Regions from separate parts of the Homo sapiens genome. Here region 2 is linked to region 1. The links come from fine-mapping of genetic effects on plasma protein levels. Region 1 holds a variant in brackets. A gene starts in the other region. All regions are shown on their reverse strands.

Region 1 (4,392 bases):
TTCTTCTGTGAAGGACCCTCTAAAGAGAATGAAAATATAAGCTACAGAATAAGAGAAAACACTTGTAGACCACATATCTGAGCTATCAGGAAAAAGTGAAGAACTCTCAAAACTCACCCGTTAAAACAAAATCCAATTATAAAATGAGCAAAATACATGAAAAGATACTTCACCAAAGAAGAAATATATAATGCAAATAAACATATGAAAAGACGCTCAACATCAGTCATTAGAGAAATTCACATAAAAGTATAATGCAATATCACTATAAACCTCTTAGAGTGGCTAAAATAAAAGAGTAGCAATATCAAAAGTGGGAAAGAATGTAGAGAAACAATGTGTTAGTTTGCTAGGGCTACTGTATAACAATATATGGCAGGCTGGGTTGCTTAAACAACAGAAATGTATTTCCTCACAGTTCTGGAAGCTAGAAATTCTACATCAAGGTGCTCTCCAGTTTGGTTTCTCTCTTCCTGGCTCGCAAACAGTTGCTTTCTCTTTATGTCTGTGCAAAGCATTTTCTCTGTGTGTGTATATGTTACAGGAACTCTGGGATTTGGTCTAGATACTGCTGCTTACCACACAAAAAGCCAATCACTGAGCAGAAAATGACCAGGGAAGAGGCTTTATTCAGGTGCTGCAGCAGAGGAGTTGGGAGATCAGTCTCAAATCCATGTCCCTGACTAACTAAAATTGAAGGTTTATATAGCAGAAAAGGAATGTAGCTATGTGCAGGAAAACAGCAATTAGAGAGGGGTAAGGAAGAGGAGTTGGTCAATAGGAAGCAGGTGGTCCCTTAGTAAACCAATAATTACAGCAGGTAAAGAAACAATCACGATGAATGAGGGGGTCTGGTGTCTCATTGCCCAGATGTGATGATTGGTTAAGTTTCAATTTCTTGATACTATCTGGGAGGCCTGATGGTTGGTTTCCTGAGAAAGAAACTCAGATAAGGCAGTTGTAAGTTTCTCAAGTTTTAAGACTGGCAGGGCCAATTTTTATGATTATCCCATAAACTATCTATGGCACAATTAGGTTGGTTTCACACAAAAGGAGAGAAAATGATCTTTGGTGTTGCTTCCTGTTATAATAAGAACATCATTCATATGGGATTAGGGACCCACTCTCGTGACCTCACTTAAACTAATTACTTCCCTAAAGGCCCCATCTCCAAATACAGCCACGTTGTGGGTTAGGCATTCAGCATATGAATTTTGGAGGGATACAGTTCAGCCCATAACAACAGGTACCTTACAGATTTCTGGAAAGAATGTAAAATTACACAGACACTGAAAAACAGTTTGGTGGTTTCTTAAACTAAAACTGCAACAACTATGTGATTATACTCTTAGGCATAAATCTCAAAGAAATAAAAACCTATGCTCACAAAAAAATCCTGCATGTAAATTTTTATAGCAGCCTTTTTATTTTTCATAATGGCCAACAACTAGAAACAAACCAGATGTCCTTTAATGTGTGAATAGTTAAACAAACTGTTGTACATTCATACTATGGTATTGATAGGAACAAACTACTGATACATGAAAAACTTGGATGAATCTCCAGAGAATTTGCTAAGTAAAAACATGAATTCAAAAATGTCATATACTCTATGATTCCATTTGTACAACATTTTTGAAATGACAAAATTATAGAAATTGAGGACAGATTAGTGGTTTCCACAGTTAACCAGGTGTTGTGGTGTGTGTCTGTGGTCACAGCTACTTGGGAGGCTGAGGTGGGAGGATTGCTTGAACCTGAAAGGTGGAGGTTGCAGTGAGCTGAGATTGGGCCACAGCACTCCATCCAACCTGGGTAAGAAAGTGAGACCTTGTCTCAGTAAATATATAAATATAAAAAGGCAACAAAAGAGTTAATTGTGTTGATAGAAAATATTTGTGTCTTAACTATATAAACCTCAATATTCTAATTCTGTTATTATACTAAAGTTTTGCAAGGTGTTGCCACTGGGGGAAATTAGATAAAAGATATATGGGGTTTCTCTGAATTATTTTTTACATCTATGTGTGAATCTATAATTGTTCAATATAGAAAGTTTAATTTAAAAAAAGACAGCTTTTACCTTTCATGGAGGGAGGAAGTGCTGAGGTATGCTGAGAAGATGGGGCTCATATAACCCTCATCTCAGTTTATTATAATTCAATGTTCACACCAGGAGAGGTTGAGAAGACTAGAGGCTACATAGCCCCTGCTCACAACCTTGGGGCCAAAGCAAGAAAGTCATGAAGACAAAAGCAGGCCACTGGCTCTACATTCATATCCGGATGCATTGTCATTTCAACAATGTCCATGATTTCTTCACCAGGAGGAGATTCCATCTCAATAAATCACTTTCTTTGCTCTTTCATAAGAAGCAACTCCTCATCCCTTCAAGTTTTAGTATGAGAC[T/A]GCAGCAATTCAGTCACATCTTCAGACTCTACTTCTAATTCTAGTTGTCTTGCTATTTCTATTTAATACCACATCTGCAGTTACTTTCTCCACTGAAGTCTTGAATCCCTCAAATTCATTCATGAGTTTTGGAATCAACTTCTTCCAAACTCCTGTTCATGTCGATATTTTGACCTCCTCCCATGAATCATGAATTTTCTTAATGGCATCTAGAATGGTGAATTCTTTCCAGCAGGTTTTTAATTTAATTTGTCCAGATCCATCACACAAATCACTCTTTATGGCAGCTATAGCCTTATGAAATATATTTCTTAAATAAGAAATGCCTTTGAGAGTTGAAAGACTTGAAAGTAGAAATTACTCTTTGATCCATGGACTGCAGAATGGATGTCCTTTTAGCAGACATAAAAACATTAACTTTTTTGTTCATCTCCATCAGATCTCTTGGGTGACTAGGTGAATTCTCAATAGCAGTGATATTTTGAAAGGATTTTTTTTTTTTCTGAGCAGTAAGTATTAACAGATAGCTTAAAATATTCAGTAAACCATGATGTAAATAGATGTACTGTCATTCAAGCTTTGTTCTTACATTTGTAGAGCACAGGCAGAATAGATTTAGGGTAATTTTAAAGAGCCCCAGGATTTTCAGAATGGTAAATGAGCATTGAGTTCAACTTAAAGTCACCAGCTGCATTACCCCCTAAGAAGAGAGTCAGCCTGTCCTTTGAAGCTTTGAAGCCAGGCATTGACTTCTCCTCTCTATCTATGAAAGTCATAAATGGAATCTTCTTCCAATATAAGGCTGTTTTGTCTATATTCAAAGTCTGTTGTTTAGCATAGCCCTCTTTATCAATTGTCTTAGCTAAATTTTCTGGATTACTTACTGTAACTTCCACATCAGCATTTGCAGCCTCACCTTGCACTTTTATGATATGAACAAAACTTTATTCCTTTAACTTATGAACTGACCTCTGCTAGCTTCAAGTAACTGAAGGCAAATTAAAGAATCACATCAAGTTATGATTATAGCACAAAGGAGTTGAGTAGGAACAAAGCTATATTTGATTAAGGAACTCACACCAGACAGGAATTCAAATATACAAACACAAATGCCAAGAACCAGAAATAGTAAATAAGAAGGGTACTATAATAAATGCTGCGAATATATGATTGCTGTTCTTTCTCCTCTCAGCTTTTCTGAGAGACACCAAGTTTATATAAAGAAAGAATTATAACAACGTATTGTTGGCTACTTTCTTTGTATATGTATCACAAAGTCATCATTTTGTCAATCAAAAGGTTTTTTTTTTCACATAGTCTACTAAAGTAGGAAAAGTGAGACTATGTTTAATTTTAAAAAATTATTGTGGACAGAGTATGGGTTTATAATTAAAGCTATCAATGACGTATTTGGTTTTCTCTGCAATGAATCAAACTTTCACAAGCAGTGAAAAAATTACCAATGCTGCATAATTAGACAGAAAAGGATAAAACCATATTTAAATACTTTGTTTTCAACCACTGTCAAGATCCATTAATAATAAAGACCACATGTACATAGCATTCCCTATATACCCAGCAGCATTCTGAGTGCTTTCCGTTTATTAATTTCTTTAATCTTCAAAACTCTCTGAGGGAGAAACTGCTGCTGTATCTTTTTTTTTTTTCTTTTTCTTTTTTTTTCAGATGAGGAAACTGAAGCACGGACAAGTTAAGTGATTTTTCCAACATCACACAGACACGAAATGGTGGGAGTAGAATTTGAACTCAGGCATTCTGGTGTGAAGGTCTGCACAGTTAAACACTAGGCTATCCATTTTAAGATTTTTTCTTTAAAATAGTGTTGTTATGTAGGCTCTGAGACAAATATTTTGATAAAGTCACATAAATATGGTGAAGAAGCATTTTCTGAGCATTCAGGATGTCAGTAAAAGAAAGACGTATAGATATTCTAAAGTTTCTCTCCTTCATTCCATAGATGAT
Region 2 (4,392 bases), not on the chromosome of region 1:
CTGCAACGTCCACCTCCTGGGTTCAAGCAATTCTCCTGCCTCAGCCTCCCAAGCAGCTGGGATTACAGGCGCGCCCCCACCACACCCAGCTAATTTTTGTATTTTTAGTAGAGACGGGGTTTCACCATGTTGGCCAGGCTGGTCACGAACTCCTGACCTCAGGTGATCCACCCGCCTCGGCCTCCCAAAGTGATGGGATTACAGGTGTGAGCCACCATGCCCAGCCTGATTGAACATTTTCAATGAGACAGCTAAGTGGAAATTGTTGTCTTCAACTGTACAGATAATCAAACCACACTGGCTGAGTGCCTTCCCCAAGGTCATCCAGCTAATAAGTGGTGGGACTGAATTGAAAGCCTAAGCCGGTTTGACTCCAGGATGCACCCTGTCTCTCCAGTGCACCTTCATTCATCTCCCCAGATTGCCTTGGGAGGACGGGGCTAGAGGACCTGTTTAAATGACTGTCTCCTGCTCAGTTGGAAGCTCAAAGCCCTCTTTGCTGTTCGTACGGATTCACTCACACTCATCCCTCACAGCAAATGTATGAAGATGAGTCTTGGAAAGCCCTTGTTCGATTGGGTCAATAGAAGATGGGAGAGAAATGTTCTCTCCCAAAAGATGCTGTAAGAGAGAGCCACAGAAGAGCTTAGAAAGGGGTTTTCAAATAGGGCAGGGGATTCAGATTTTGCCTGCAAAGTTCACTTGTGCTCTCTCTCTCCTTCTCTCGAGTGAGGAGTCCCTGAGGCACCAGCAAGAGTGACAGGTGTAGTGTGGGTGGCCACCTGAGGTCGCAGGAAGGGGTGAGGGAGGGAAGCTGTGCTCTCTGGCTAGGGGCCGGTACAGCCTTCCCCTCACCGGCTCATCCTCTGAGACTCGACCCAGGTGCACCTTCCTGATCACCTCCTGTCGTAAGTGCCTGACTTCCCCTGTAGGTTAGGGTCTGGCATAGGGTAGGTGCCAATGAATGTGAGGGGGAAAGAATTGAGACTGAGGGAATGGCAGGAGAGGGCAAAGGGTGGGAAGAGGTGTGGTGCCGAACACCTATTAACCTCAGTAGGGAAGGCACCAGGTTTGAGAGGCCAAAGAAAAGATCCATAGCCAGCAAACGGAACATGGGGGTTTCAGGAGGCGGAGGTTGCAGTGAGCTGAGATCATGCCACTGCACTCCAGCCTGGACAACAAAGTGAGACTCTGACTCAAGAAGGAAAGAAAGAAGGAAAGAAGGAAAGAAAGAAAGAAAGAAAGAGAGAGAGAAGGAAGGAAGGAAGGAAGGAGGGGGGGAGGGAAAGAAGGAAAGAAGGAAGGAAGGAAGGAAAGAGAAAGAAGAAAGAAAGAAAGAAAGAAAGAAAGAAAGAAAGAAAGAAAGAAAGAAAGAAAGAAAGAAAGAAAGAAAGAAAGAAAAAGAAAGGGAGAGAAGGAAGGGAAGGAAGGAAAGGAAGGAACGTGGGGGTTTGTTAGGGGCTTGCCTACAGGAGAGAGAGTCCACTGGTGATGAACTGGACAGGAGAACCGCCTTACATACAGAAATGGTCCAGGGGCGGCGGGCTGGACAACATACCAGTGGCGGCCGACTGGGCAGGAAAACCTCAGCCCCTTGCAAACAGCATGCAGTTTATAGAGCATTTTCACTTTACACCATCCCCTAATGACCTCCACCTGGCAATCTTCATTTAACCCAAAACTCAGGGCCTCAATCCCCTGTATGGCCAGCGTTCCACCAGAAGGGACGGGACGGGGGCTCAGATATTCATCGTAGGTAAGAAACGGGTTGGCTACTCCCCAGATTCCTTAGCTCGGAACACATATTCAGGTCTTCCACACAGGGTCATTCTTGGAGCGTGCTTCAGTTATCCCTGTCAGGTGCGTTTACCCTATAAGAAGGCCCTTCAGGGGACACTCTGGCAGCCTGAGCAGTTTGCACAGTGAAGCAGTAGGTGGCTCCCCAGCTCCTCCTGCCTGCACCACACCACACACACATGACTGTGGTCAGGGCGGGGGCCGTGTAGTAACTACCGGAGTGGTGGAGGGACCAGGAGCCACACATTGCTGTTTTAGCCAGTGACAACTTCTGAGCACGAAACACTCACTTTTAGGTCATATTCCTTCCACCGTCTTCATGAAGTCCAGGTGCCCAGTCTCACTGTCTCCGTTTTTCAGAAGGCAGTCAGTTCAGGGAAGCTGAGCGCCTTCCCCAGGGCACCCAGTCAGCCGGGGCAGAATTCAGATCAGAACTCCCGACAGCTGAGAACGCCGCACGGGATCTGCCCTCCATACGACCATGCCTGAGCCGTTCCCTCCTTTCCATTTTAACAGGGGCTTGGGTTGGGCAGAAAGGACCCAGCTGAGAGGAGGAGCAGTGTGGGGGGACGCGGCGGACAGCTCCACCTGTCGCTGCTGCCCAGCAGGCTGGAGACACGGAATGGCCCCTCCCCTTGGCCCCCTGTCCCCGATGCCATAGTTCTCATCCATTGTCATTGTACTGTCTCAGTGCTGCTATATTTAAGACGGTGCAGTCTCCGGGATCGCATTCTTCTCCCGGTGCCCGCTGAGCCGAGGGCAAGAAGAGAACAAGGACCCTCTCGGCCTCAGGAATCTTCTCCCCAGAGACTCCTAAGTGGGCACACTGCTTCTGTGAGTCACCCCCAGAAATCAGGGTGGGGGAGGGATGCCTCCTAAGAGTCAGCCACTGGGGAGTGATATCTGTGGGTGCATGTGTGTGTGTGTGTGCACGTGTGTGTGTTTGTGTGTATGTGTGTTGTGTGTTGTGAAAGGAGCCTGGGAAATTTGTGCTGAGGCAGCACCCAAGTGAAAATGGGAGGGGATTCCAGAAACCCCTGCCCCATCCCACTGTTCTGTGTGGCCCTGGGTCTTCTGAGAGCTGAGCTGTCTGTGATGTGAAAGTTGCAAAAAAAAAAAAAAGAGTGGGGGCTGCCCTGGGAACTGGAGTCTTTCCTGTGATGGAGCAGCGATAAGCGGGAGCCAGGCTAAGCTGGCAAGTTCCACGAACTTAGAGCGGAGCTGGCTGAGCCCGGCTTGGCCAACCCCACAGGCAGGGAAAGAGAGCGAGCCCTCGGATCCCAAATCTTAGAGCTGGAAGGGATTTCATCCAGTGCCTGACAGGAAACCGAGGCCCAGACGGGAAAGGAGTTGCCTCAGCTCATGACTGGCAAGGGCAGGATTCGGCCTCGCGGAAGCTGGTGGAGCCACTGGCTAAGAACACGTCCCAGCCTGTGCCACCCGCCGCCCGCAGGATGTGTCTCTGCTCCCAGCCACCATCCGCCCCCATCGCAGCTCCTGGAGGGGTCTTGGCTCAACTGCTGTGCATTCCTCTTTCCCTCCTGAAGAAGGGGAGAGGCCTCCTCGGCAGATGGAGGCTTGGGAGGAAAGCAGAGGGGAATAGGGAAGGCCACGCAGTGGGACCTCTGGCCCAGATTTTTGCACCCCAAGAGAGGGAAGCGGGGGCAGTTTCCCCTCCACGCAGGCACACACAGTGTTCCGGGAAGAGGCACCCTGGTCCTTTGGGAAAGGGCAGTGAGGCCGCAAACTTGTCCCTGCTTAATACCACGCATCAGTCAGTGCTTTAAAAAGAATTGGTAGCTCATCCGCTAAAGCCAGGGGTCTGGTTGCTGGAGGCCCCGAGGTCAGGGACGAGCGCCAGGCCCCTGCCTGCTGTGCTAATCGGGAACAGAGCATCCAGGGGAAGGGAGCCAGTGGCTGGTGCCAGGGAATGTTAACTCTCAGCCACTGGAGCCAGGGCCATCGTGTCCCAGGAAAGCTGGGGCAGAGTGGGGGGTCCTTGCTCCACCTAGGGTGGTACCCAGCAGCTCTCCTCCTGGGCCATGAGGAAGAAAGAGCAGAATGAGCAGGGCTAGCCACTTCTTTGGGTGCAAAGAGAACTTCTTCCATCGGGAGGGAGTGATACGAAGCCAAAGAGGGTGACTGTCCCATTATGTCATTTGAGATGATTAGCAGGAGCCCAGGGAGCTTTAGGGGGCAGCCCTTGGTCCCAGCTAACCCTGCAGCCATCCATTCTCTTTTTCCTGATGCCCACAACTGCAGACACCCAAAAGGAGCAAACTTCTAGGAAGTAGAAGGGGTAAAAGCCCACTAAGACTGACCCTCCACAGCCCGAGCCCCAGACACCTCCACCACATGCCCCTTCCAGGCCAACGGCTCTCCAATAAAGCCAGTGGGCTCACCTTCCATGCCATGGACTTAGAGAAATGGTCACCTAGGTGCTGTGTTCACATCCAGGCAGAAGACAGCCTACACATGCACGCACACACACACATACACACACATGCACGCCCACACACACACACGCTGCCACCTCCAGCAGGACCCTCTAGAGAGGCAGGGGCCAGACAGAGCTGACCCCACAGAAGCTGACAG

Direction of the effects. Alleles are on the strand shown, and positions count from the first base shown. The strength of an association depends on the size of the effect and on how common the allele is.
In carriers of allele T in region 1, the plasma level of the protein whose gene starts at base 2,527 in region 2 tends to be lower than with A alone (weak association).

What was found. PIP is the posterior inclusion probability: the model's chance that the variant is causal. Protein levels are from antibody-based Olink assays in UK Biobank. Linkage for the fine-mapping came from a reference panel and not from the study's own genotypes, which makes the PIPs less certain.
Region 2: MYOM3 starts here. The variant in region 1 is fine-mapped to the plasma level of the MYOM3 protein (UK Biobank, PIP above 0.99).

Annotation. Positions count from the first base shown.
Region 1 is chr11:21,937,201-21,941,592 of GRCh38, reverse strand. All of the region lies in intron 2 of LOC102723370 (a long non-coding RNA gene), which reads right to left. Among named protein-coding and RNA genes, the nearest start is that of ANO5, 250 kb to the left of the region's middle. The variant T/A (reference allele first, on the strand shown) is at 2,410.
Region 2 is chr1:24,110,270-24,114,661 of GRCh38, reverse strand. MYOM3 (myomesin 3) reads left to right here and starts at 2,527. Exons shown (of 37, transcript NM_152372.4): 1 at 2,527-2,631. RefSeq lists an enhancer at 1,817-2,325.